4 linked regions of the Homo sapiens genome follow. The protein of the gene in region 4 purifies or fractionates together with the protein of the main gene of each other region. This does not show direct contact. Each region holds a gene or a part of one and is shown on either strand. Other genes may lie near its edges.

Evidence for each region.
Region 1: the proteins of KLHL10 (region 4) and KIRREL1 purify together in Homo sapiens (affinity purification with mass spectrometry; 2 studies listed by BioGRID and IntAct, with this or other methods). This does not show direct contact.
Region 2: the proteins of KLHL10 (region 4) and MVK purify together in Homo sapiens (co-immunoprecipitation; 3 studies listed by BioGRID and IntAct, with this or other methods). This does not show direct contact.
Region 3: the proteins of KLHL10 (region 4) and PRMT3 purify together in Homo sapiens (affinity purification with mass spectrometry; 2 studies listed by BioGRID and IntAct, with this or other methods). This does not show direct contact.

What each region holds. Positions count from the first base shown.
Region 1 is NC_000001.11:157,996,642-158,003,667, reverse strand, and holds part of KIRREL1 (kin of IRRE-like protein 1 isoform 1 precursor), read right to left. Parts: intron 1-7,026. UniProt on the Homo sapiens protein: Required for proper function of the glomerular filtration barrier. It is involved in the maintenance of a stable podocyte architecture with interdigitating foot processes connected by specialized cell-cell junctions, known as the slit diaphragm.
Region 2 is NC_000012.12:109,576,789-109,583,814, reverse strand, and holds part of MVK (mevalonate kinase), read right to left. Parts: intron 4,651-7,026; exon of another isoform or gene 4,533-4,650; intron 4,014-4,532; coding exon 3,869-4,013; intron 2,421-3,868; coding exon 2,265-2,420; intron 1-2,264. UniProt on the Homo sapiens protein: Catalyzes the phosphorylation of mevalonate to mevalonate 5-phosphate, a key step in isoprenoid and cholesterol biosynthesis.
Region 3 is NC_000011.10:20,460,707-20,467,732, reverse strand, and holds part of PRMT3 (protein arginine N-methyltransferase 3), read right to left. Parts: intron 5,754-7,026; coding exon 5,566-5,753; intron 3,274-5,565; coding exon 3,187-3,273; intron 1-3,186. UniProt on the Homo sapiens protein: Protein-arginine N-methyltransferase that catalyzes both the monomethylation and asymmetric dimethylation of the guanidino nitrogens of arginine residues in target proteins, and therefore falls into the group of type I methyltransferases.
Region 4 is NC_000017.11:41,840,805-41,847,830, forward strand, and holds part of KLHL10 (kelch-like protein 10), read left to right. Parts: intron 1-1,018; coding exon 1,019-1,508; intron 1,509-4,321; coding exon 4,322-4,939; intron 4,940-6,456; coding exon 6,457-6,606; intron 6,607-7,026. UniProt on the Homo sapiens protein: May be a substrate-specific adapter of a CUL3-based E3 ubiquitin-protein ligase complex which mediates the ubiquitination and subsequent proteasomal degradation of target proteins during spermatogenesis.

The sequences.
Region 1 (7,026 bases), on a different chromosome or scaffold from region 4:
GGGATCCAACATCAACCACAATGTAGCTGCCCCGGGGGTGAATGCTGGAGGGTTCTGGCGCTGGCAGCACAGCCAGCCACGAGTGTGTGTGTGTGGGAGGGTCAGGCATCAAGGGGAGTGTGGGACCTCTGGGAGTCCCCCATCCCATCCCACAGTGTCAAGCTGGTAGATTTCCAGGGAGAGTGGGGAGTGGTGGGGAGGACTGAGACAAAGAGGAGCAAGTCAATTCCTCAAGGTTTTGGATTAAAACCCAGGAGTCCCACTGTCTCGATGAAATGTCCTTCTGGATGACTCAGGAGTAGAGATGAAAACTTCAACTTCTCTCAGAGGCTTCATTCTGCCAGCCTGCCTAGCCTTGGGTTTCTGCTCCTTTGAAATGCCTTCTCTCTCTACTATGTTCTCTCCTCCTCTGCCCTGCCTGCCCATCTCTGCTCCTTTCCTTTTAATAACCTCCCAGTTAAGCGAATCGAATGGGAAGAAGCAGTTAAAAGCAACTCATGGCTTGACAATGCTGGGTAATGGAGCGAGCAAGGCCCCGGGCTGTTCCTGGGAGAATTCAGGAAGGAGGAGGAAAAATAATAATAATAAAAAAAACTCAGCTAAGCTGATTACAAGGACAAAGTTAATTTAGAAATCAGCTCTGTTGGGTGGGAGTGGGGGGTGGAGAGTACGGAACTGGACACAAGAGGTTGGGAGATTCGATTTGGGGGAAGTGTGCTTTATATAAACTGCCTTTGTTCCTGGAAATCATAATCCTTGGGAGGGACCAGGGTTCACTCCTTCGGATTCCTCGGCTCCTTCCATCCGGAGCAGGGGGTACAATCGGGGATTGTCCAGAGCTTGGATATCTCGTGGCACCACATTCCAGAGGCCCCGCAGCCCCTGAGCCTCACATCTGTGGCCCCCTCCCTGCCCCTGCTCCCTGCTCCACTCCCCCTCACTGGACGGTTAGGCTTCAGCATTTTTCACATACCTCTCTCACAACCTTTATCTTATAAAATTGTCAATATGTGTTTATACATCCATCTCCCACACCATACTGAGAGTGCCTCAAGAACAGGGACTAAATCTTACCTACCTTTTCATTCCCAGGCCTAGGCCCAGCACAGCCATTTAAAAAAACAATGCTCATAAGTTGAACACATGCTCTCACCCCCCCTGGTGGGACCCTCTTCAAAGGACTCCATTTGAAAAACCAGAGCTCACTTCCTAGCAGAGGTTTTAAGAATCTTTAGGCTCAGCTCCTAAATGCACATGTATCTAAGGCCACAGACCAGTGGAAATGGCCCAGAATTGACCCTGAAGGGACTAAACCCGGATGGGCCCTCTGATGGAACCAGATGGCTCCCCTTGACTCTGGGCAGTGTAGACATGGCCCAAGCTTGGGGGGGACAGGTAACAAAGAGCCTGGCCTCAGAGTCAGGCTGCAGAGCTCTCCTCGCAGTTACTGCCGTTGAACTCTGCCTCCAGGCATCTTTATCTTATACTGAAGTATTCTCAGAGGAAAAGATTTCCTCATCCTTCCGAAGTCTCTCTGGCTCAAGTCACAGATCTGAGACTTCCCAAGGCAGAGCTGGTATTTCTCTAAGGTTTTCTGCTCACTTCTGCCTGGCCAAACCTTGGTTATCTGTTTTTTTCATGTTTTTAATTGGAGGGGTTATAAATTTCCATAGTGTCTCCAGTAGAAGAGGTGTTTAAGAGGAGGGGAGGCTTTGGTGAGAAGTGAGATGGGGATTATACCTGTTTTTAACACACCCTTTGTCTGCTTAAAAAACAGAAATCCATTGCTCCCCAGTTCTTACAGGGGAGTCTTTGCAAGAAGTCTTTGGCCTGGCTTTTCCAGGCCTCCTCTGGTCTGTCCCCATTCTGCCGTTCTGGATCATCTCATCTGTTTCTCCCAAACCAACCCAAATCCTCAGTCCAACTGGCCTCAGTGTCCGCCACACATCCCACCAGCAACATCTTGGTTCCGGAAGTCTGGCCCATCTGGTAAGGCTCTCCCTCTTCCTGCCACATCCATGTCCTGTCCATCCTTGGGCCCCACTTCCTCCACGGAGCCCTTCCTGGTCACTTCAGCCCACAGCAAAGTCCCTTCTCTGGACTCTCTAGCTCTGACCTGCACACTGCTATCACGGCACCAATGACTCCACACCTTGCACCACCAGCAGTCTTCATGTGTGTATATCTTAGTTTCTTAAAAGGGAAGGACCACCTGCTGTCATATTTTTTGGTCCACATAATGCCTACCAGTATGTTTTGCATATAATAATGTACAGTTGATGATTAAAAAAATAATTCTCCTGATTTGGTGAAAGAGAGAACTGAGGCCTACTGAGATTAAGTAATTTGCACTGAAATCACAAAGTGAGACCTTCAAGGGCAGAGATCTAGTACATTATTCACTTTGCAACACTGGAGCCCAGCACACAGTAAGCACACAATTCTCTTCCGCTGAATGAAGGAACAAAAGTCCTTCCTCTTTCCACACATCTTTCAGTGAAGATATATTCCTCAGACTGCCTCAGAAGGAAAGAAGGGGCAAAAAGAAAAGGCATCCAATGGCCTAGTCGATTCTGAAGCGGACCTAGGATGGGACAGCTTCCTGGGATAAACCTGCTGGGCACAGAGTACACCTCCAGACACTCGGGTTCCTGTTATCCCTTCCCTGCCTCAAAACCCAAGACCCACAGCATTCTGGGTGAGTCTCCCATCACCTTCCAGAGCCAGATTGCAAAAGGAATGAAGCGGCAGCATTCTCTCCTGGGAAACTAATGGAATTTGCTAGAGAGTTCTGGAGATTTCTACCCCTGGATTTAAGACCCTTAATCCTGAGGAGGTTGACTGGCTGCAAGGCTCATTTATTTCAATACGATGCCTATTTTGTTAAATGGGCTCAAGGAGGGCAGAGAGGGATGAGGACTGCAGCCCCTGGAGACAACAGAGGTTAATAAAAGTGGCTGAATAAATTAAATATGGAGGGAAGGACAAGCTGGGAGCTTGGAGTCAGCTGATAGAGGGAGAGTAAGTGGGATAGAAAGAAAAAACAAAAGTGTCATACTTCAGTGATGTCTGCGAGCTACAGCAGCTTTTATCCTGGATGCTCCAAGAACTTAATTAGGTTCGCATTGTCTGACAATCAGACGTAGGAAGGTATAAGAGCTGGAGCTACAGAATGGAGAGGGACCAGTGTTACAGAATGAGGAACCCCAAGCTTCTTTCTCAACTTTCATAACTTCACAGTTTGTGCATCTATCAGAGAGGATGCAGGGCATGCAAGGCAAGGCAAAAAGTAGTGCCTTTAAAGACACAGGAGGGCTGCTATGGCTGGAAGAAAAATGACTCACAAAAATGTACTACTGTTGCACACTAGTGCTCTGGTGACTGAAAAGGCTTGGGTAAAGATGAGAGATATCTGTCCAGATGTGTATGGGGATGGGGATAAGAAGTGGGTGCATGTATAGCTGCACTATGAAGGCATGTGTGAATACATATGCATATGCATATGCATGCAGTGAGATTGCATCCACACGCTTGCATGCAGCAGTAATGCAGAACAGGTAGGTGTGCAGTCTTCCTTCTAGGAATTATCCTCAGCCCCCACCCCATCTTTCCTGCTTGGGTTCTAGTTCTGGCTCTGTCACTTACTAGCTGGATCATCTTGGACAATCTGCTTAACTTCTTTGGATCCCTGTTTGTCCATCTGTAAAATGGGGATAACACCTAACTTCAACAATTATGTCAGTATTGAATTAGTTACTAATGCATGTAAAATACAAAATTGCCCTTCACAAAAGTGAACGGATTTCTCCCCCACTCTGAGAGAGCCCATTATTTTTCCTGATTTCTGAAATTGCCTCTTCCTCCTCCCTGGTTTCACATTTGAGGATCAAGGACATGACAGCCTCTTTCTCCTCTACTGCTGACAACCCACCCCCACACCCCCATCCTTTTCCAGGTCAAAGAACCCTCCAGGAGATTGCCAAGTAAACTGGTCCAGAGGCCCTGGGAAGAAACCAGACAGGAACTGGTAGGTCGGGAAGGGGCATAACTTTCTCATCTCTGGACATATGAAGAGAAATGTCTCTAGCCTCAGATGGAAACATCTCCCAGAAATTGGGGAGATTAAGGAATTTGTCCCCATCCCTTCCCTCCATACCAACTGCCACCCCTTTGCAATTTATTTAACTTCTCTAGGTCTCTGTTTTCTCATCTATTAAATGGAGAAACAACTCTCCTGCCTACACCATAGGATGAGTGTATCTCTCTATCAAATGGTACATGTGAAAAGTTGCTAAAATTGCCAAGCACCATACAGGTACAAAGATAAAAGACTCTAAACGTGGGAGGAAAAGGATTGAGGCTTTCCAAACCTCCTTCTGACAAGGGGCATTATTTACTGGTCCCAGCCCCACTGATTAAAACATGTATCCTGACATCTAAGTTTTGCTTCACAAATGATCATCAAAGCAAGGCAGGGAGATAGATGTGTCCTTGGAATTTCTGGGCTGAGAACTAGGGAAGGGGGCTGAGCTGAGTGAGGCACCAGGAGAGGAAAAAAGGCCTAGGCTTCCCTCCTGTCCTTCCACAGCTGCCTTAACTCTAAGAAAGGCAGGGTGTGGCTCTTCTAGGCAGGCTGAAGGGCACTCATGGCGCTTAGGAGGGAGACAAAAGAGGGGTTGAATCTGGGGTCTAACACCTCAGGTATGCCCTTCAGCAAGTTACTTAAACTCTCAACTGTGGTTTCTTCATCTATAAAATGGGAGTAACATTAACCTGAAAAGCACACTGTAGGAATTCAATAAAAGGTAATTTTGATGCTTTGGTATGGAGTTCACCTCCTACAATCACTTTTCACCACCCAAGGCCAGGCAGTTCCCCAGGGCACAGGCTAAGAAGGAGGGTTGAAAGCCTCCCCAGGCGGGTTAGAACAAGCCATCTAAGACCCTAGCCTCCAATCCTACCAGACTACCAGGGACCAGACAAATTTGGAAGCTGACACTTGGGGAGATCCTGGTCTCAGGATTATCCCCTAGACCCCTTCTCAGTGCTTCTTTTGCCTCTGTATGGCTCTGGGCCTCTCCAGGAGTCAGCCTTGCATGGAACAAGAATAATTCCCAAATTTGTAGTTCATGGACCTGTAACAAGGCTGTGTTTAATATTAGAAACAAACCTTTTTATTTGCCAAGTCCTTGAAAAAAGTCATTTACTAGATTTATCATATCATCAAAGAAAAACAATTTAACACCAAAAAATGTAGGACAGAATCTCAGAATAAAGGATTGTTTTTTAAATTTGAATGAGTTTACCTTTATGAAATACTCACTCCCTTTTCTTCCTAGTTCTCATTCTGCTATGGACCAGGAAAATCCCTGTCCCAGTCCAGCATCAGTCTCTGCTGGCATGTAGGATCTGGCAAAGGAGAAGGGTGCAGGCTGTGGGATCCACTGGTTCCTACAACTACCAATAAGATACTTAATGTATCTAAACCTCAGTTTCTTGGCCAGGTACAGTGGCTCACACCTATAATCCCGGCACTTTGGGAAGCCGAGATGTAAGAAGCGGTTGAGCCTTGGAGTTTGAGACTAGCTTGTGCAACCTAGCAAGACCCATCTCTCCAAAAGAAAAAAAAGAAAATTAGCCAGGTGTGTGTGGTCCTAGCTACTTAGGAGGCTGAGGTAGGAGAATGGCTTGAGCCTAGGAGGAGGTTGCAGTGAGCCATAATCACACCACTGCACCCTAGCCTGGGCAGCAGAGCAAGACCCTATCTAAAAAAATAAATAAATAAATCTCAGTTTCTCATCCATGAAATGGGGATAATTTACACAGCCAATCTCAGGGGGCTGTAGCATAGATTAAATTAGATAATGCATATGAAGTAGTTACACAGGGCTCAATAAATGATCCATATTATTTCCAGACTCTGAAATGCTGCCACCTCGGGGCTAGTGTCCCTCCTCATTTCACACAAGAGCTCTGGTTCCTTCTCACTCAAGTGCCAACCTCTTCCACTTTTGCTCTCTCTCCTCAAATCCCTTCCCCAGATCTTTTCTGAGGTCTCCAAGGAGGGGGTCAGTTTCCCCTTCTGGGTCTGCCACAACATAGTTCTTTCCATGAGAGATACAAAGAAGGCACTTACTGAAGCCCAGGACCAAGAATCTGGGGAGCTGGAGCTAGAAAACACACACACACACACACACACCCCACAAAGAATCATAGGGAGAAGAAAAGGAAGCGCAGACAACTTGACTGCCTGTCTATCTATGTCTCACCTCAAAGCCAAGATAGCAAGCATTTACTGAGCACTTCTCGCTGTGCCAGACACTGTTCCATGTACGTTACATGGATTAACATATTCAAGTGCCACCACAACCCTATGAGGTATTACTTCCATCCTCACTTCTGGAAGAGCATGCTGAGGCACAGGGAATGTACATGACTTGTTCAAGCTTACGACTACCAAATGGTGGAGGTGGGAGCTGGATGCGAGTCTGTGATTTAATCGCCATCGAATGCTGCCTCTTTCCAGCACTGCAGCGCGCTCATCAAATCAATCAATTGATCAGATATTTAAGGGGCACTTACCACCAGAAACTATAGGATAAAAGAAATTAAGACTTAGTCCTTGTAAGGGTGTAAAGAGGTCCTAGGGGGGCAGAGGTGGGGCTTCCTCCTCCCATCTCACTGGAGCGCCAAAGGCAGAGCCAGAACAACCAACCACTCAGCTGTGGGAAGGAGCAGAGGCGAGAAGGCCTGGATGCCTCCTCCTCCTCCTCCTGACCAGGTGCTCTGGGGCCCAGGGCTGAGGCACTGAGTACTTGGTTCACACCCTCCCTTTGGGTCTAAGTGAGTAGAAGGCAGAAAGTGGAGTTCAGTCAAGGTCAAAGAGAGGAACCCAGTGTCCTGGTTTCTGCCATGTCTCCCCTGACTCTTCCCCAACCTCAGCGCCCTGCTCTGGGCAGAAGTGGGACATCTAAAGTGTGTATATGTGTCTATGTGTAGCACCGAAAGGGGAGAGTCCAGTTACTC
Region 2 (7,026 bases), on a different chromosome or scaffold from region 4:
TACAAACAAATCCATGACACTGCAATATGTGACTTCAAAGCAGGTGTTTCTCAACAGGTGCTGGAGAGGATGTGGAGAAATAGGAACACTTTTACACTGTTGGTGGGACTGTAAACTAGTTCAACCATTGTGGAAGTCAGTGTGGCGATTCCTCAGGGATGTAGAACTAGAAATACCATTTGACCCAGCCATCCCATTACTGGGTATATACCCAAAGGACTATAAATCATGCTGCTATAAAGACACATGCACACGTGTGTTTATTGCAGCACTATTCACAATAGCAAAGACTTGGAACCCACCCAAATGTCCAACAATGATAGACTGGATTAAGAAAATGTGGCACATATACACCATGGAACACTATGCAGCCATAAAAAATGATGAGTTCATGTCCTTTGTAGGGACATGGATGAAATTGGAAATCATCATTCTCAGTAAACTATCGCAAGAACAAAAAACCAAACACCGCATATTCTCACTCATAGGTGGGAATTGAACAATGAGAACACATGGACACAGGAAGGGGAACATCACACTCTGGGGACTGTGGTGGGATGGGGGGAGAGGGGAGGGATAGCATTAGGAGATATACCTAATGCTAAATGATGAGCTAATGGGTGCAGCACACCAGCATGGCACATGTATACATATGTAACTAACCTGCACATTGTGCACATGTACCCTAAAACTTAAAGTATAATAATAATAAAAGAAAAAAAAAACAGACCAAGGATCCAGAGCTACCTAATTACATTTAATAAATGATAATATAGTTAAAAAAACAAAAACAAAAACAAACCAGGTGTTTCTGTAAGAGTACGATGGGCTGAATTGCTGGGGGCTGGGGCGGGGTGGTGGTGCCTGAAGGACAAGGGGAGCCAGCTGGGCAAGGTGTGTGTGTGGGGTGCATTCCAGACACACCACTTGTGCAGCACTGGAACCACACCAGAGCTGGCTGGCCCTTCCCAGGGACCAACAGGTGGCAGCGTGCCTGGGATGAAGTGAGTGATGGAGGCGGGGGAAGGTAACTCAGGCAGCTGACCTAGCCCAGGGCCTGGCCCTCTCAACAAATGTGAGTCTTCCTCCTGCTCTACACAGTTTGTTTTTTAGGGGGCTCAGATTTGAGTCTTCAAAGGAGACTGGGCTCCAGTCCTTTCCGACTCAGAAACACATGATGGGTGGGGTGTGGTGGGGTGGGGTGGGGTGGGAGGTCTACTCTCCCTAAGGGTTCTGAGAAGGAATGACTGGCCTTCAGGGGAAGGTGGGAGAAATGGTTAGAAGCAGCATAAGAACACACACACATGCAAGTGCACACACACAGTCACCCTCCACCTTTTGAAAGACAGGGCCAGTCCTTTGGCCCGTGGAAAATCACTTGAACCTGGAGGCAGAGGTTGCAGTGAGCCAAGATCACACCACTGCACTCCAGCCTGGGTGACAGAGCGAGACTCCATCTCAAAAAACAAACAAACAAACAAACAAACAAACAAACAAAAAAACCAAGCTCAGAAAACAAAACAAAACAAAACAAAAACAAGCCCAGGAAGAGGACAGAGCTCTGCATTTGGGGGCCTCATCCACAACTCCTGGTCCTGGGACAAACTGCGTAACCTCTGCGCACTGGGTGGTTTCTCAAGGAACATTCTCCTAATGATAGAAATGGTCTGTGGTCAAGCCTGTCTGGACAGGCCTCACTGACTCACGTGGTCAATAGGAACGCAGAGAGGTGACACGCCCTCCGTGGAGACGGCCCCGTAGGAGGAGAGATGCCCTAGTCTAATGGGCACACCCCCTAATGTGGATTTCTCAGCAAACTCTTAGTTTCTTTCATAACCATGTGGTAAAACTGGACAATCACCCCTAGGGCACTGTCATTACCATACAGAGGAGAACACTGTCCTAGCCTGAGTCAATGCAGAGGTGGGAGGGTTCATCTAACCTGCTGCCCTCTAGATCTGGACTCCAGCTCTTTCTACCATACCATGGGCGCTTGAAACCAACAGAGCCAAGATGGGGGTGAGCAGAGGTGGTGGAGAGCAGGAGAGAAAAGCTCAGACTCTGAGTTCAAATCCCACTCTGCCAGCACTAGCTGTGTGGCCCTGGGCCAGCCATTTGACCTCTCGGGGCTCAGCTTCCTCATGTTAAAATGGCCACTATGACACCTCTCACCTCACAGGGAGGTGGTGAGGTCTCAGTGAGAGAAGCCACGTCCCTGTCCTGCCGTGCGGGAGGGACACTGGCCAGGTAAGGACCATGGTTACCTGTTGACGCAATCCCCGTCCTTCAGCGGGTTTGGGATCTCCTCGCACACAGTCAGGAGGGCTGCTGCCAGACACACCGAGTAGGCGGCGCTGGAGCCCAAGCCCGCCCCGGGGGGCAGCTCCGACCACACTACGATATCCAGGCTCGGCAGGGCCCTGAAACACACCAGGGTGTGAAACGTGACTCTCCCGCAGGGCAGTGGGGTGCCAGCACTGAACCAGGGGCCAGGCCCAGGCCTGACTCCAAGCATCTGGTCCAGTTTTCTCAACTGGGGGAGAATTCCTGACCCCAAATGTATCCCTATTGAACATCAGGAACTCATGCTGAATCAGACAACTAGAAAACAGGTATCAAGTTCATTTAAATCCCTGGGTCATTCAACCAGAGCCCTTCCCAGAAGCACCTGGCAAGCTGTCAACCCCTTTCTCCCACCTCCTTCCTGTGCCCACATGCTAGGCTTTTCTGTGGGCCTGCTCTGAGCACAGGCTGGCCCCTCTGCCTGCAATAGCCGTGCACCTCCTTATCCCACAGAGAAATCCCTACCCATCTCTCAAGGCCTTATCAAATGTCGCTTCCACTGTGACACTTTCCGTAGCTGCCCACAAAGACCCTCCTGGCTCCCCTTCTAGGACCCCCGCCTGCCCTCCCTCCCTCCACCGCTGCCTCACCACCGCACACTAGGATTGTGTGTTCACCGGGGCCTCTCCCGCCAGACGGTGCTCCCCAACCATGTGTAACACGGGTCTGCTTTTGATCACCAGAAAGGTCCGAATCGCTACATCTTACATGTATTTCCCCCAAGCAAGAACTGTCAAACTTCATGTTTGGTAATTTCCACGAAGTGCTTTTCCCATTTCCCAAATAGAAAAATTGTAATAATGTGCGTCTTCAAATTCCACGTACCCACCCCACCCAGCCTGGAAGATTCTGGAATGCCCCTCACCCACTTAAGGGGACATGCCTCTCTCAAGTTGAAATTCTGCTTCGGACGGCAAGTATCAGGCCGTTTCCGAATGTGTCCTCAGCATAGAGCCTGGCCACTGAGCCAGCATCTGCTGCTCAAGGGAAGGGCTGCCCCCTTGAGGTTTTTTTCCCTTTGGGTTCTGGACAAAAACAAAAACAACAAAAACAACAACAGAGAGGCTGGGGCCGGGTGCAGTCGCTCATGCCTCTAATCCCAGCACTTTCAGAGGCCAAGGCAGTTGGATCACATGAGCCCAGGAGTTTGAGACCAGCCTGGGCAACACAGTGAGACTCCATCTCTACAAAAATTTAAAAATTTAGCCAGGCATGGTGGTGCGCACCTGTAGTCCCAGCTACTTGGAAGGCTGAGGTGGAAGGATCACTTGAGCCTGGGAGGTCGAGGCTGGAGTCAGCTGAGATCATACCACTGCGTTCCAGCCTGAGCAACAGAGACCCTGTCTCAAAAAAAAGGCACGCCATATATACCGTGCCTGGCAGGGTGCCTGGCACATGATGAGGACAGCCAATGGCTGCTGCTCTAGAAGAGAGCATGTGCATTCTCCAGCAGCAATGACAGAAACTCTTCCTTTTTCTCCATGGGAGGCTGAATCTGGACTCCTTCCCCAGACCACGCACACACCTCTGCTTCCGGCAGATGGACAGGTATAAGTAAAGAAAGGCCAGCACAGCCAGGCGCTCGGTGACAGCACAGTCGTCAGGCAAGCCTGCAACCTCCTTTAGCTTCTCCACTTGCTCTGAGGTGGGTGTTGTGACATCACCTTGCTCTGTTCCACAGGCAAACAAGCAAACACAAGTGGGTGAGAGGGACTTTGGTGCTTTATAAACAACAGAACACAGAAAATCGACTAGTCACTGGAATTGGAACATGGATGGACACGAATTTATGGTCTGAACCCCACACCCAAGTCTGTTCATTGGCTTTAGGCAGACTTGGGTTTGAGTCCCAACTGTGCCATTTACTGGCCGTGTGACTTAACCTCCCTGAACCTGTTTCCCACCTTGGTAAAACAGGGATAACAACAGTGCCTCTTCTTACGGTTGTCAGGAACGTAAAGTTAAATAAGGGGTGTAAACTTTTTAGCACAGCACCTGGCATGTAGTAAGTGCTAATTAACAGTAGTTTTAAGGTTGGGTGCAGGCGCTTATGCCTGTAACCCCAGTACTTTGGGAGGCCAAGGTGGGCAGATCACTTGTGCCTAGGAGTTTGAGACCAGCCTAGGTAACATGGCGAAACCCCAACTCTACAGAAAGTACAAAAACTAGCCAGGCATGGTGGCGCACACCTGTGGTCCCAGCTACTCAGAAGGCTGAGGCAGGAGGATCGCTTGAGCCCAGGAGGTTGAAGAAACAGTGAGCTGTGGTCGCACCACTGTACTCCAGGCTGCATAACAGAGTGAGACCCTGTCTCAAAAAAAAAAAAAAAAAAAATTGTAGTCTTAAAACAAACACACACAGACACACAGACACACACAGAGAATGCTGGCTCAATCGCACAAGGGCCTAGGTTTCACCTTCCATTGTATAAAACCAAAATCAAAAGAGTGTTAAGTTAACCCCCAAAATATTTCCCTCCTCCAAAAGATAATCATCAGGAATAGGACAGTGTAAATGCGAGGCGGTGCCTGGGCAGAAGGGGAAGGTGAGGCAGGTTGTTCCCAGGGATGTACAGGAACCTGGGCCACTTTCCTCTGAGACACTGAGAAGGCAGAGCCTTTCTGGCCAGCTCACCTTTACAAATCACTCGCTGAGCCTCAGGTCACATTCTCAAGGGACTGGGAAATGGAATTGGGCATGCGTGTGTTAGGAAACTTCGGGCACTGGTTAAGTACTGGGTAAATGTGTGTTGAATGGATTAATGATATACTCAAATGGCCAAGTCATGGCATCATTGAGAACCCAGGTATTTCAGAGCTTTGTAATCGAGATGGAACAGCTGTTAAGAGCCTGGACTTTGGGGCTAGGAGAAACCTGGGTCTGAATCCTTTCAGTGTCACCAACAAGTGTAACCTGAGCCACTTGACCTCTGAACTTTAATTTTCAGATCTGTACAATGGGGATGAATACCACCACCTACTTCCAGGGAATGCTGGCGAATTCTAAGAGTGCTAACATATGTGAACACACTTAGTGCCTGGCACACGTAAGTGCCCAATAAGTGTTCACTGTAGTAGCACGGTGCAGTGGTATGTGCTTATATTCCCAGCTACTCGGGAGGCTAAGGCAGAAGAACACTTGAGCCCAGGAATTTGGGACCAGCCTGGGCAACATAGTAAGACCCTGCCTCTTAAAAAAAAAAAAAAAGTTCAATGTTTATTACTATCAGGAGGGAGCAAAAGGACACTGAAAGAAAGATGGTAGATCTTTGCAACCTAGAAGATAGTATGTCTCCCAGAGCTCCAAAACTAACAAGCCCTTCCCTACATAATGCACTCTGTGTCGCACCCCTAATGCCTGCCTCCAGTGTCGTCGGATCCTCATGGCAGCCCTCAGTCAGGAAACATGTCTCTGCTCCGAGGCCCAGAGGATGAAGTGACCTGCCCCAGGTTCACTGAGGGAGTTGGAGTGGTCTGAGACATGTTCCCCCATACCTGGCTGCTTCCACCCCAAGCTACTGACATACACAAGTTGCAGCTGGTTCTCAGGAGACATTTCTGGTCTGGCTGGGTGGCCCTGTGCACCTTGGAAAGCAAGTTCCATGTGCTCTGGCTGGTTGTTTTCAGATGCACGCTCCAAAGGAGTGGCTTTTAACTGAGGTGTCCCCAGAATCACCCAAGGAACCCCTTTCAAAAACTCCTACCACCACTACCAACTCCCAATAAGAGAGGGGCGGAGCCAGGAGCCCATCCATCTGTATTGGTTAAAAAAAACCACCACCACCATCACAAAAAACTCCTGGGTGATTCCAAGATATGATGAAGTTAAAAAGGGCTGCTCTAAAATGAGGATTTTGGCTGGGCACAGTGGCTCTCACCTGTAACCCCAGCACTTTGGGAGCCCAAGGTGGGAAAGTGGAAAACTGCTTGAGCCCAGGAGTTCCAGACCAGCCTGGGCAACACAGTGAGACCCCATCTCAACAAGTGAAATGAGAATTTTCAACTCTTCCTCCATCCCCATACGGCATATGGGAGTGACTGTGGTTTCTCATGGGGAATGGGAAGCAGGTGTCAAGGGTTCAGGTGCAGTGTAAGGAAAAAACCCAAAAAGATTCTCATTTACCCCATCCTGGCTGAGAAACACTGTTCCAAAGAGCAAGGCTTCATTCAGCCCAGGGAGCAGACAGTAAACTGACAACAGAGAAAACACACGTCAGCTCTGGGGCAGGTACAGGGGACTCCACTGATGGAAAAAGCTGGCCTGCTTATGAGTGGATGAAATCTTCACAGTGCTGTCAAAAATCAGCACACACACGTGACACACAAAGAAAAAATCAGTACTTCTGAATGGTTTATATGGCCTGACCCAATTTTGGTTAAAAAACCAAGATATCTCCCTGTCTCTATCAATCTTTCTATCAATCTACAGAAAATCACCCAGAAGGATTAATGCCTAAATGCTTAGAGTCATTACTGGGGTCAGGGAAAGGAGAAGGGAAATAATAGGTGATTTTTAAAATTACAATGTCCCAGTATTGACTATATTTTCCAATAATAAGCATAGGTAACTTGTACTTTTATTAAATTTTTTTTTTTTTTTTTGAGATGGAGTCTTGCCCTGTCCCCCAGGCTGGAGTGCAATGGCGCAATCTTGGCTCACTGCAACCTCTGCCTCCCAGGTTCA
Region 3 (7,026 bases), on a different chromosome or scaffold from region 4:
TCTGAGAGGATAAAGAAAAACTTCAAAGATCTACTTCCTATCTGCTGCAAAGAGGATGAACTCTGGTACTGATTTCATCACATGAATCTGTGAGGCCTGTCTCTTAAGAAGAGTGAATTCTGATTATACATATTCTCTTTCCCTCTTCATTCCAACTGCTGGACTATTTGCCAAAAATAAACATTGTTAAATCTGTTTCAAATGCAACACGAAGCCTGCTTTCTTCTACCCCTGTAAGATCTTATTCATAGGTTTCTCTAAGTTCTTTTAATAGTTTCTACAATCCCACAAAGAAGGTTTTTTGGGTCAGGAAAGAGTAAGGAGATTTTATTTCACAAGTAAAACAGTAATTTTTTTCCTTCACCAGTAAGATGGGAATAATATGAGTACTCATCTCAAATGGTTATTATGAGAACTAAATAATGCTTTTAAAGTGATTAGCACATTGTCTGACATTCAAGTGTTCAACGACTGTTGATGTACGTTACCTTCCTCTGATAATATTAACTAAATTTTAAAGGATAATGTCAGAAGAGTTAACATTCAATGCTAACTACTAAAATATTTTATCTTCAGTACCTGGCATGCATCCAATAAATGGTTTGTAACAATACATTCTTCCTGAGGTGAGTTATGGAACTAGGTTATTCAGCAGTAACTAGACACCTGTAACTCCACTCCAACCTCCTGCCACCTTCTTCGCAAACCTTAGGCTCACCTAATTTCCAAACAAACTTTTTCATAAACACCATTCAGGCAAGTTGCGACTAAAAATGCAAATCTAAATAAAAGGTACTTTATAGATATAATGTAACAGTTTACTTATAATTCATTTTTCTTATGGAACTTTGTACAGGGACAAATGCAGCAAGTAACTATTTGATACTTAGATTCTTCAATATTAAAAGTTCAATTACAATCTTTGAATTAAATAGACTTTACCAATTTTTTTCTTGTTTTGTTTTACTCTTTTAAGTATACAGAATAAAACTAAGATGTTTCTTTTTACTCTTTTAAGTATACAGAATAAAACTAAGATGACTGAAGGATACAGTTTCATTTAATACAAACCTTCTTGTACTCTATCCTAAATACTAGGAAATAGAAAACAATTCCATATATGTGTTATGAAACTCCAGATCTGTAGTATAAAACTGTAGCTAAAACTGCTTTCCAAAACTTACTGACAGCTAGGGCCCCACATGACCTAGATTCACCAAGCAGATATGCTGAATGAAGATTTGGAAGGAGAACATGGCCTACCTGGGTTGGGAGGACAGAGGACCAGGAACCAGGATGGTAGTAAAGGGTTTTGTTCATCTGGGGTTGTCAGTGGTGGCTAACACGGAGTGGGCTAGGGGAATTAAGGTAAATAGAACCTACAGTGCTAGGCTATTTAAAACAGGCAGCTCTGTAGCAGGCCAGTTCAAAGGTGTGGTTCTAGAAGTTTCTAGAAGTTGAAAATACTGTCTGTTCCTTTAGGTCTCCCAATGTGTCTGGAAACTATTGTATTCCCTCTAACAAATCTCTCAGTTTAAACCAACCGATTTAAATTCTGTTGTCGAAAACTAAGAACCCTGACCAATAAACTAGAAAAAAAGAACATTTCAATGAAAGTCAATAAACTTTTCTAGAGTTCACAAATATGCACAAGCTTTTGACATCTTCAGTAGAGTTTTACATCTGCTCTATTTTGATTCATGTGATAGGCACTGAAAATATATGTGAAATATATATTTAATACTGGTGACATGACAATTTATTCTAGGAATTCCTTTATAGATGATTGATCAATTTTCATTAATCAAGATGGTCTTTTTTCAACCCTCATGTATTAATAATATCAAAACAAAAAGGAAAGTCTAGGAGTTAGCCTTTAGCCTAATTTCAATTGACAAAAATAATTTCAATTACTAAAAAGCAGAATTAGAAAATACATGGGAAATGAATCAAATTTTGCTTTTTGTTAATTAAATAAATAATGAGTGCTCCAAAGTCACAAATCTTTATTTGTGATATTTAAACTTTAATCTGGATATTTAAATTAAACTTAAATCTGGATATTTAAACTTTAAAAAATTATAAAACCAACTTCAACTAAAAGAAGATTCCCTCAAAACATCAAAGTACATTGTTAAACTTATTTGGATATAAAATAATCACTGAATCAAAATGAACTGAAACAACTGTAAAGACATGAAGTCTTGTGTATAATATATCGATCTGAACCAAATATTTAAAAGAATCAGGCAGAAGACTCAATGTTAACATGACTTATAATCTATTTTACAGATTCTGACAATACAATTTTCCATAAAAATGTAAACTTCTGAGGACATAGTTTTAAAAACCATATATTTTTAAAATAATATAAATATGTTAATACCACCTATATAAACTCATACTATAAGGAGCAGATTTTATGAACAATTTGAGTCTCCTGACAGCAGTAAATGTTATCTTAAAAAAATAAACATTTATAAATTATTTGAGATGAAAAATTTTTTATATTTTAATAATCTAACGTTTCTGGCTACATTGCAGGTATTTTCACATATATCTCATGAATCCATGTAATGAGTCATCGAAACAGAATTATCCCCATTTTTCTTAAAGCAACTGAATAGTCTGAAGTACAGATTACTTAGGTAACTTAACAACGAAATAAGTGGTAGAACCACATAGGAACCCAGATCTGCCTAACTTTTCCAAAGGATTTTTTCTATTAGACTATTAAATTATTATTAGATTTTTGAAAGGTAACTCAATAGCAGTTCAGTAATTTTTTCATACATAAATATAAAACATAAAATATTCTACCAAATAAACATATCTTCCATCTAAATTAAATGTAAAGAGTTAAAGGGAGGAATAGGGTATGAACTTTGGTCTTTGAAGATAAAGTTGAGTGCTCTTGACTAACCACGTGATAGGAAATAATGAAGACTCTATAAAGAAAAATCATTATGTAAACAGGGTTTCCTAATACTTTTTCTACTGAATTAAACTTTTTTGAAGTTTACTGACCTATTAACCAGATCTGTTCAATGGCCTAGCAAAGGCAATGGTAGACTGTCAGAGGCAATAGTCATTTTCATTTGTCACAAGCCTGGTAATTAAACTCATTAGCCTGCCAATCAACTGCACTGCTAGTGAAATTTGTAAAAGCAGAATGAAATAGCTTACCGTGCACATGGATGTCCTTGTGATTTTCAGGGTAAAATCTGATGAAAATTCCAAATCTGAGATAGACGTCGTATGGCAATCTATATGCTACCCATTAAAAAGAAGTGAAGAAAGAGCTTAGTAAAAATAGTCCAAAAAAAAAAAACAAAAAATAAAACAAAAACAACCCAGACAAACATTACTTCTTTTATGCACAAATGATTATTGGAAACCAAAGTTTTGCAAACTTTACTCACATGCTAATTTTTGGAATTATTTATAAGTTTAAGGAGTACTAGTACTATCATCTTGTTAATTTTTTCTTAAATTCATTTAACTTAGGCTCCTTGTAAACAATAGTATTTATCAAATCATAGTGCTAATGTGCTAAAGTTTTCCTGACACACTAAAATAAATACTTTCAAATAAAAAATGTTTTCCTGTGTTTCACCTAACATCATTTTGCCTACTGTGTATGGTACACCCACCACAACTGCTATAAAATATGTGTGATAACAGTCAATACATTTATAGGAACTGCCAACTTGAAAACACATGCTAATGAAAAGAAAGTTGTTTTAAAATTCATGTCTATAATTGAAGATAAGTTTTGTTAGATATGAGGAGAAACCACACAATTCAAACAAAACAGCAAAACTATGGAGATTTCGATCCAGAGAAAAAATAGCGAAATATCTTTATTTTCCCATTCTGCCCTTTTTCAAATCCTTCTCCATTATACTTTGGAGAAGGGATGGAATCACCTTTCAACTACAGCAGTCTAACCAGAAGTGTGCTGTAAAGACCGTCATCAGCTGAGTAGATCCAGCCAGGAGTAGATCATAACCCAGTGAATGCAATTAATGTAACCACACATCTGAGACACTATTGAAAACAATTTGAGAAAACATTTTAACAGTACAATGTGTTTGTGGGAGGACTGGAAAATACAGAACAAACTATTTACTTAAATAAATGTTAAAAAAAAAAAAAGAGTACATACACTTTTTAACACCTTATTTTCAGGTCTAAATTTTTCTGTCTCAACTATTTATTCATGGCAGTTTTTGCATTAAGCAGAGATCACTAGAGAGAGAAATCAGCAACCTCCACCAACTCTCCTCTTTCTGCTCAACTTTAAGGCTTAGTTGGTTATAACTGTACACTCCTATCCTGAGCCAAAGAGCCCAAATAAACTCTTTATTCTCACTGTACCAGAGCACTGAAGTCGTATAACCATCAAGCAGACTGTTTTTCTTAAAAGCTGAACGCACTTTTAATCAGCCTGCTCTTGTTAAGAAACTTCACATTTATTACTCTATACTATTAATGCTTTATCCATTTAAGAAAATTAAATATGTACTAAATATCTGCTTTGTACAGAGAAGAAATATTGATGCTATATGAAAGTAACAGCGTGATTAAAACGAGAAGACAGCACTTCGGGAGGCCGAGGCAGGCGGATCATGAGGTCAGGAGATCAAGACCATCCTGGTCAACACGGTGAAACCCCATCTCTACTAAAATACAAAAATTTAGCCAGGCATGGTGGTGCATGCCTGTAGTCCCAGCTACTTGGGAGGCTGAGGCAGGGGAATCGCTTGAACACGGGAGGCGGAGATTGCAGTGAGCCGAGATTGCGCCACTGCACTCCAGCCTGGGCGACAGAGTGAGACTCTTTTTTTTTTTTTCTCTTGAGACAAAGACAATATCCTGAACCTAACACTGAACATACTGCTCTAGATTTGATTATCTAGTTGAAACAGACCAAGAGTTAAGAAAAGCAGTATTGTTTTTTGCTGCAAAGTTATTAGTGAACCCATGTAAATTCAACATAGAAAAATTCATAATAAACCCAGAGATTAACATGGCAAAAAATAAGATGACAAAACACAAAAGGAATTAACTGAGAAATCTGAACATAGTAGGGCTTTCGTTTCATGGGCAAATTTACTATATGTAATTACTTAATCTGAAAACGCTGGAAGAAATCTGAATGAGAGAAGTTAAACTGTGTGGAATATATGACACGAATGAATAATCTGGCTGTAAATGAGAAGCTAAAATAAGGCTGGGGAGGATGATGAAGCAGAACTGATAATACAGCAGGACTTTTTACCTTATTAAGCCAAAGTAAATATAAATTATTCAACCGGTTCAGAGTTAGATTTGAAGGACTGTAAAACTGAGTGTAAGGAGTTTTAATATACAGAGAAGTGATTCTAAAGAGATGATATAGTCAACTGGTAAATATTATGACCTCAATTTGTTTTAGACTGATTACAATGGGAAAAGTACTGTTTTGAAAGCCCATATATAAAATCAATATATTATTTTCAAATGCTGAACTAAGAAAAATAGCAATACCATTATAAAAAATAAAGTTGGTAAAACACCTACCTTAATACCACAAGGTTCTGAAATAAGAGTCTTCGGATCTAAAACTTCCACAACAGCTTCTGGAATAACTGCTTTCTTCATGCAGGACATCTTGAAGCCATAGACATCATCCCAAAAAGCAATTCTATCAGCATGTTTATTCACATCACTCACTGCTACAAGGCTGATAGTGCAAATGTCAGGGTAGACTGTAACAAACAAAATGCCCAACAATTAAGCATTATCTCCCTTTCTTATGGAATATAATTTTTTAAAGCCTAAATATAAATATCAAATCCATCAGTAAGGATTACTAGCAATGGGAGATTAATGAAGGTATAGATCAGGAAAAACAACCATGCTTCATCTTGTAGCCTCTTTTAAAAACAGATACGCATTATCATGATGATAAAATTAAAACAGGGATTCCAATGATAGGGTTTGAATTAAAATAGGGTTATATAATTAAACAATTCTGAAATAAACATATTTATTGATATTAAAACTTAAAGTATGCTAACTTAAAAGGTACTAGATCTTTACTTATTCCTATATTCCTCTAAAAACATGCAGAAAAGGACAAATCATTTAAAAAGATATGTAGCATGTAAGAAAATCATGTAATAGGGTTTTATAGTTATACAGAAGACCACTTCATATTACTCTCATTTAATAGAAAAATATTTATAAGCATAAAGTATGTGCCAGACACATGTGCCAGTCTAATTTACAGACTATGGACACATATCACTATCCTCAATAAACTTATATTTAGACTATTTTGAAAAAGAAATGCATAGTTATTTGTGAGGTAATAAATACTAAGAACAGGAGCATCCAAGGTACTAAGGGAGCTCATGGCAAAACCAGCTAATTCAGACTTGGCTGGAGCAGGGGAGAAGGGATAATATATAAGATAAGAACTGAAGCCCAGTAAGTTGGGAGTGGGGAGGGAAAGTGTATTCTAGGCAAAGTGAGCAGCAGTGTGCATAAAGGGTCACAATAGATGGGATGGCCCATATACAATCTAATTGAGAGAGAAATAAGACACAAGGCTAGAAAGGTAAGTAGAGACCAAAGACTACATGCTGAGTAAACCAAATTAGTAAACTGGACTTAATTCTAAGAATAATGATAATCCAGTAAAAAATTTTACATAGGGTAGCAACATGACTAGATTTTGATTTTAGACAAACCACCTGGAATGCAATGTGGAGAATAATGGGAGGGTCTAAGATGAAAACAGAGACAAATTAAGAGATAGTTAAAATAAACCAGGTGATCTGAACTAGGATATTGCTGTGGGAATGGAAAGGATGAGATGTATTCAAGGGATATTTATGAAGTAGAACTCAGAGGACTTTGAGGCTGAGTGGCTGTGGGGCAAAAGGTCAAGGATGACAGTATTTAGCTTTAGTAACAGCACAGATTGTGGTACTAACCATTATAATAGGACATAAATATGGGCAGATTCAAAAGGAA
Region 4 (7,026 bases):
CCTTAAACTTCTTAAAAAAAGGAAGCAAAAGCCGGGCATGGTGGCTCACCCGTGTAATCCCAGCACTTTGGGAGGCCGAGGCAGGCAGATCACCTGAGGTCAGGAGTGCGAGACAAGCCTGACCAATATGATGAAACCAGCCTGGCCAACATGGTGAAATCGCATCTCTACTAAAAAATACAAAAATCAGTTGAGCGTGGTGGCACACACCTATAATCCCAGCTACTCAAGAGGCTGAGGCAGGAAAATTGCTTGCACTCTGGAGTTGGAGGTTGCAGTGAGCCAAGATCATGCCATTGCACTCTACCCTGGGTGACAGAGCAAGACCCTGTTTCCAAAAAAAAAAAGAAAAAAAGAAAAGAAAACAATTAATAAAAAGAGAAGCATTCCTGTTCTCATGAAGTTTACCCCCTGGATGGGGAAACAGGCATTAAATGAGTAAAATGCATATCAAATCATCATAAATGCCTGGGAAAATAAGAAAAGGAAGATAAAAAGCAGTGAGTGGCCATTTTATTTTTATTTTTTCAGACAGAGTCTCGCTGTGTCCCCCAGGCTGGAGTGTAGTGTCATGATCTTGGCTCACTGCAACCTCCGCCTCCCAGGTTTAAGCGATTCTCCTGCCTCAGCCTCCCAAGTAGCTGGGACTACAGGCATGTGCCACCATGCCCAGCTAATTTTTGTATTTTTAGTAGAGACGGGGTTTCACCACGTTGGCCAGGCTGGTCTTGAACTCCTGACCTCATGATCCACCCGCTTCGGCCTCCCAAAGTGCTGAGATTATAGGCGTGAGCCACCACGCCTGGCCCAAGAGACCTGGGTCTTACTCTCAGTTCTAGATCTTAATTTCTCCATCCACAAGGTAAGAGTGACCAAAGTCAGAGTTCTTGGAAAGGTGTTCTTCTTGTCCACTGTATATAGCACATGCCTGCACCCCACTTTCTCAGACCATTTCCAATGTACTCACCTAACAGGAGAGAAATGTTTCCGTGGCTGCTAGTTTCTTTCTTTTTTCCAGAGCTTTGTTTACAAGTGGCTGGAACAACACTGAAAAGAAGGTATACAACATCCCTGGCATTTCTCCCGACATGATGAAGCTAATCATTGAGTATGCATACACCCGGACCGTGCCTATCACACCGGACAATGTGGAGAAACTGCTTGCTGCTGCAGACCAGTTTAACATCATGGGTATCGTCAGGGGTTGCTGCGAGTTCCTCAAGTCAGAGCTGTGCTTGGATAATTGTATCGGCATCTGTAAGTTCACGGACTACTACTACTGTCCTGAGCTGAGGCAGAAGGCCTACATGTTCATACTGCACAACTTTGAGGAGATGGTGAAAGTCTCGGCAGAATTTTTAGAGCTCTCGGTCACTGAACTTAAGGATATCATTGAGAAAGATGAGCTCAATGTCAAACAGGAAGATGCTGTATTTGAGGCCATTTTAAAGTGGATTTCTCATGACCCCCAAAATAGAAAGCAGCACATTTCAATTTTGCTTCCTAAGGTCAGTGTTCACTCTTGATTCATTTATCACAGAGAGATTGTCCTAAAAGCAAAATTCAGACATATGACAGATCCCAAGGCTGTATTTACATGTCCTTAGATAGAAGGCATCTACTATTCTCTGGAATTTTGCAACTGTCTTTTCCCTTGGCATTACTAGTTCTTTTTACCTAAGTTATATTCTTTGACCAAAATCCTTCCTGGTGGTGGGGGAAGAAGAGAGCCTTCAAAATAATTCTAGGTGGGGTGTGGTGGCTCACTTTGGGAGGCCGAGGTGGAGAATCACTTGAGCCCAGAGTTTGCCAGCCTGGGCAACATAGGTTATAAAATTTAAAAAGTATAAAATTTGGCCAGGTGCAGTGGCTCAAGCCTGTAATCCCAGCACTTTGGCCAAGATGGGCGGATTACCTGAGGTCAGGAGTTCGAGACCAGCCTGGCCAACATGGTGAAACCCCATCTCTGCTAAAATACAAAAATTAGCTGGGCATGGTGGTGGGTGCCTGTAATCCAAGCTACTCAAGAGGCTGAGGCAGGAGAATCGCTTGAACCTAGGAGGCGGAGGTTGCAGTGAGCTGAGATCATGCCACTGCACTCAAGCCTGGGTGACAGAACAAGACTCCATCTCAAAAAAAAAAAGAAAAAAAAATTATAAAATTTAAAAATTAACCAGGCTTGGTGGTGCATGCCTGCAGTTCCAGCTACTGGGTGGAAGGCTGAAATGGGAGGACTGCTTGAGCCTGGGAGGTCAAGGCTGCAGTGTGCTGTGATCACCTCACTGCAGTCCAGCCTGGGCAATACAGCGAGACCCTGTCTCAAAAAAAAAAAAAAAATTCTAAAGGGCTGAAATTCCTTTCAGCTTTTTTCCTTTCTATGAATTTCTCCATACCCAAGGTAGAAGTTGAATTAGAAATCATGGCTGGCACAGTGGCTCATGTCTTTAATCCTAGCACTTTGGGAGGCGGAGGCAGGTGGATCACCTGAGGTCAGGAGTTCGAGACCAGCCTGGCCAACATAGCAGAACACTCTCTACCGAAAATACAAAAATTAGCTAGGTATGGTGGTGCATGCCTGTAATCCCAGCTACTCGGGAATCTGAGGCAGGAGAATAACTTGAACTCAGGAGGCGGAGGCTGCAGTGAGCCCAGATCGCACCATTGCACTCCAGCTGGGCGACAGAGAGAGACTTGGTCTCAAATTAACAAAAAAAAAAAAAAAAATCTTAAGTATTGCACACAATTGTTGTCAGTTGGTGCTAATAAGCGTTATTTTACATATTAAGACATACTCAATTACTGAACAATTACCATGGTTTTTCTTGGTCTAATAGTACTGACCACTAACCAAGGAATGGGATTGCTCTCTGGCCACTTGAGGTGCCTTCTATCTAGCTCATTCTCAGCTTCCAAATGTATATATCACCTCCCCATAAATAAATAGTAAATAAATATTTATTATTTATTTATTTATTTTGAGAAGGAGTCTCACTGTTGCCCAGGCTGGAGTGCAGTGATGCGATCGCGGCTCACTGCAACCTCTGCCTCCCAGGTTCACGCCATTCTCCTGCCTCAGGCTCCCCAGTAGCTGGGACTACAGGCACCCGCCACCACGCCCAGCTAACTTTTTGTATTTTTAGTAGAGACGGGGTTTCACCGTGTTAGCCAGGATGGTCTTGATCTCCTGACCTCGTGATCCGCCTGCCTCGGCCTCCCAAAGTGCTGGGATTACAGGTGTGAGCTAGCGCCCGGCTGACAACTATTTATTTATTTTGAGACAAGTCTCACTCTGTCACCCAGGCTGGAGTGCTGTGGTGTGATCACAGCTCACTGCAACCTCCACCTCCTGGGTTCAAGCAATTCTCACACCTTAGCCTCCAGAGTAGCTGGGACTACAGGCACGCGGCACCATGCCTGGCTAATTTTTTTTTTTTCTTTTTTTTTGAGTTGGAGTCTAGCTCTGTTGCCCAGGCTGGAGTGTGGTAGCACGATCTCGGCTCACTGCAACCTCCACCTCCCCAGTTCAAGCGAGTCTCCTGCCTCAGCCTCCTGAGTAGCTGGGATTATAGGCACCTGCCACCACGCCCAGCTAATTTTTGTATTTTTAGTAGAGATGGGGGTTTCACCACGTTGACCAGGCTGGTGTCAAATGCCTGACCTCAAGTGATCTGCCCACCTCGGCCTCCCAAAATGTTGGGATTGCAGGCGTGAGCCACTGCACTCAGCCTGGTTTTTGTATTTTTTTTTTTTTTTTTTTTTTTTGAGACGGAGTCTTGCTCTGTGGCCCAGGCTGGAGTGCAGTAGGGTGATCTCGGCTCACTGCAACCTCTGCCTCCCTGGCTCAAGCGATTCTCTTGCCTCAGCTTCCTGAGTAGTTGGGATTACAGGTGCGTGCCACCACACTCAGCTAATTTTTGTATTTTTAGTAGAGATGGAGTTTTGCCATGTCGGTTAGCCTGGTCTAGAACTCCTGACCTCCGGTGATCCGCCCATCTCGGCCTCCCAAAGTGCTGGGATTACGGCCGTGAGCCACCTCGCCTGGCCCCAATTTTTGTATTTTTAGTAGAGACAGGGTCTTGCTATGTTGCCAGGCTGGTCTCAAACTCCTGGCCTCAAGTGATCCACCTGCTTTGGCCTCCCAAAGTGCTGGGATTATGGTGTGAGCCTCAAAATCGACTATTTAAACTGTGACTTATACATTTCAAAAACAAACCAAAATATTTCCAGCAATTCAAAGGCAGATCGAAAAATGGGAGTTAAGGATGTGGGATTTCCTGGCACTCTCACGTCACCTGAATGACTTTCTGCGTTTGCTTCTTAGGTTCGCCTGGCCCTAATGCATGCTGAGTACTTCATGAACAATGTTAAGATGAATGACTATGTCAAAGACAGTGAGGAATGCAAACCAGTCATCATTAATGCCCTAAAGGCCATGTATGACCTCAACATGAATGGACCCTCTAATTCTGATTTCACCAACCCACTCACCAGACCACGCTTGCCCTATGCCATCCTCTTTGCAATTGGTGGCTGGAGTGGTGGGAGCCCCACCAATGCCATTGAGGCATATGACGCTCGGGCAGACAGATGGGTGAATGTTACTTGTGAGGAAGAGAGTCCCCGTGCCTACCATGGGGCAGCCTATTTGAAAGGCTATGTGTATATCATTGGGGGGTTTGATAGTGTAGACTATTTCAATAGTGTTAAGCGTTTTGACCCAGTCAAGAAAACTTGGCATCAGGTGGCCCCGATGCACTCCAGACGTTGCTATGTCAGTGTGACAGTCCTCGGCAATTTTATTTATGCCATGGGAGGATTTGATGGCTACGTGCGTCTAAACACTGCTGAACGTTATGAGCCAGAGACCAATCAATGGACACTCATCGCCCCCATGCACGAACAGAGGAGTGATGCAAGCGCCACAACACTTTATGGGAAGGTAAAGGACCAGGGTGGGAGGGGAAGATGTGGATGCAAAGTACAAGACCAGAAATGATACTGCTCTTTTTTGGGGTGGATGGAAGACGCAGTGGCAGTATTCACTTTGGAGTACTCATTCTTTCTTCAATTGACAAGGTGACTAGTTGCAACTGTCTTTTATGTTGTTTATTGAAAAGTAATGCAAAGCCGGGCACGGTGGCTCAAGCCCGTAATCCCAGCACTTTGGGAGGCCGAGGCAAGCAGATCACTAGGTCAGGAGTTCAAGACCAGCCTGGCCAACATAGTGAAACCCTGTCTCTACTAAAAATACAAAAAATTAGCCAGGCCTGGTGGCGGGCGCCTGTAATCCCACCTACTCGGGAGGCTGAGGCAGGAGAATCGCTTGAACCCCGGAGGCAGAGGATTTCAGTGAGCCAAGATGGCGCCATTTCACTCCAGCCCGGGCGACAGTGCAAGACTCCATCTCAAAAGAAAAAAGAAAAAAAAAGTAATGCAGGCTGGGCTCGGTGACTCACGCCTGTAATCCCAGCACTTTGGCAAGCCGAGGCGGGAGGATCACAAGGTCAGGAGATTGAGACCATCCTGGCTAACATGGTGAAACCCTGTCTCTACTAAAAATACAAAAAATTAGCCGGGTGTGGTGGCAGGCGCCTGTAGTCCCAGCTACTCAGGAGGCTGAGGCGGAGAATCACTTGAACCTAGGAGGCGGAGGCTGCAGTGGGCAGAGGTTGCAGTGCTCCAAGATTGCGCCACTGCACTCCAGCCTGATGACAGAGCAAGACTCCGTCTCCAAAAAAAAAAAAAAGTAATGTGTAATGTGGCAGAGCCCAGTGTCTTGTGTTTGTAATCTCAGCACTTTGGGAGGCCAAGGTGGGCGGATCACTTGAGGTCAGGAGTTTGAGACCAACCTGGCCAACATGGTGAAACCCGGTCTCTACTAAAAATACAAAAATTAGCCAGGCACAGTGGCACACACCTGTAATTTCAGCTACTCAGGAGGTGGAGGTTGTAGTGAGCCGGGATAGCTCCACTGCACTCCAGCCCAGGCAACAGAGTGAGACTCCATCTCAAAAAATAAAAATAAATAGGCTGGGCACAGTGTATCATGCCTGTAATCCTAGCACTTTGGGAGGCTGAGAGGGGCGGATTGCCTTAACTCAGGAGTTCGAGACCAGCCTGGACAACACGGTGAAACCTCGTCTCTACTAAAATACAAAAAATTAGCGGAGCGTGGCAGTGTGCGCCTGTAGTCCCAGCTACTCCAGATGCTGAGGCAGGAGAATTGTTAGAACCCAGGAGGCGGAGTGAGCAGAGATGGTGCAAATGGACTCCAGCCTGGGTGACAGAGCGAGACTCTGTCTCTAAAAAATAAATAAAAAGCAATGCATGCACATACAAAAAAAAGAAATTCAGACTGTACAGACTGGAATTAAGTGCCCACTACCACCACACACATATCCTTTCTTTCTACTCCCTAGAGTGGGAATTTTAATAATCTTGGAACTCTTCACACAGGTCTACATATGTGGTGGGTTTAATGGAAACGAGTGCCTGTTCACAGCAGAAGTGTATAACACTGAAAGTAATCAGTGGACAGTCATAGCACCCATGAGAAGCAGGAGGAGTGGAATAGGCGTGATTGCTTATGGAGAACATGTATATGCGGTAAGTTTATCTAGTACCACACACACACAAAAAACACATTACCCCTAGATTTTGTATTAGTAAATGGGTTTATGCTACTATTGGTAAGTATTTGAAAAGCTTTTTTTTTTTTTGAGATGGAGTCTCGCTCTGTTGCCCAGGCTGTACTGCAGTGGCAGGATCTCGGCTCACTGCAAGCTCTGCCTCCCGGGTTCATGCCATTCTCCTGCCTCAGCCTCCCGAGCAGCTGGGACTACCGGCACCCGCCACCATGCCCAGCTAATTTTTTGTATTTTTAGTAGAGACAGGGTTTCACTGTGTTAGCCCAGATGGTCTCGATCTCCTGACTTTGTGATCCACCCGCCTCGGCCTCCCAGAGTGCTGGGATTACAGGCGTGAGCCACTGCACCCGGCTGAAAAGCTTTTTTTCATGGAAGATAA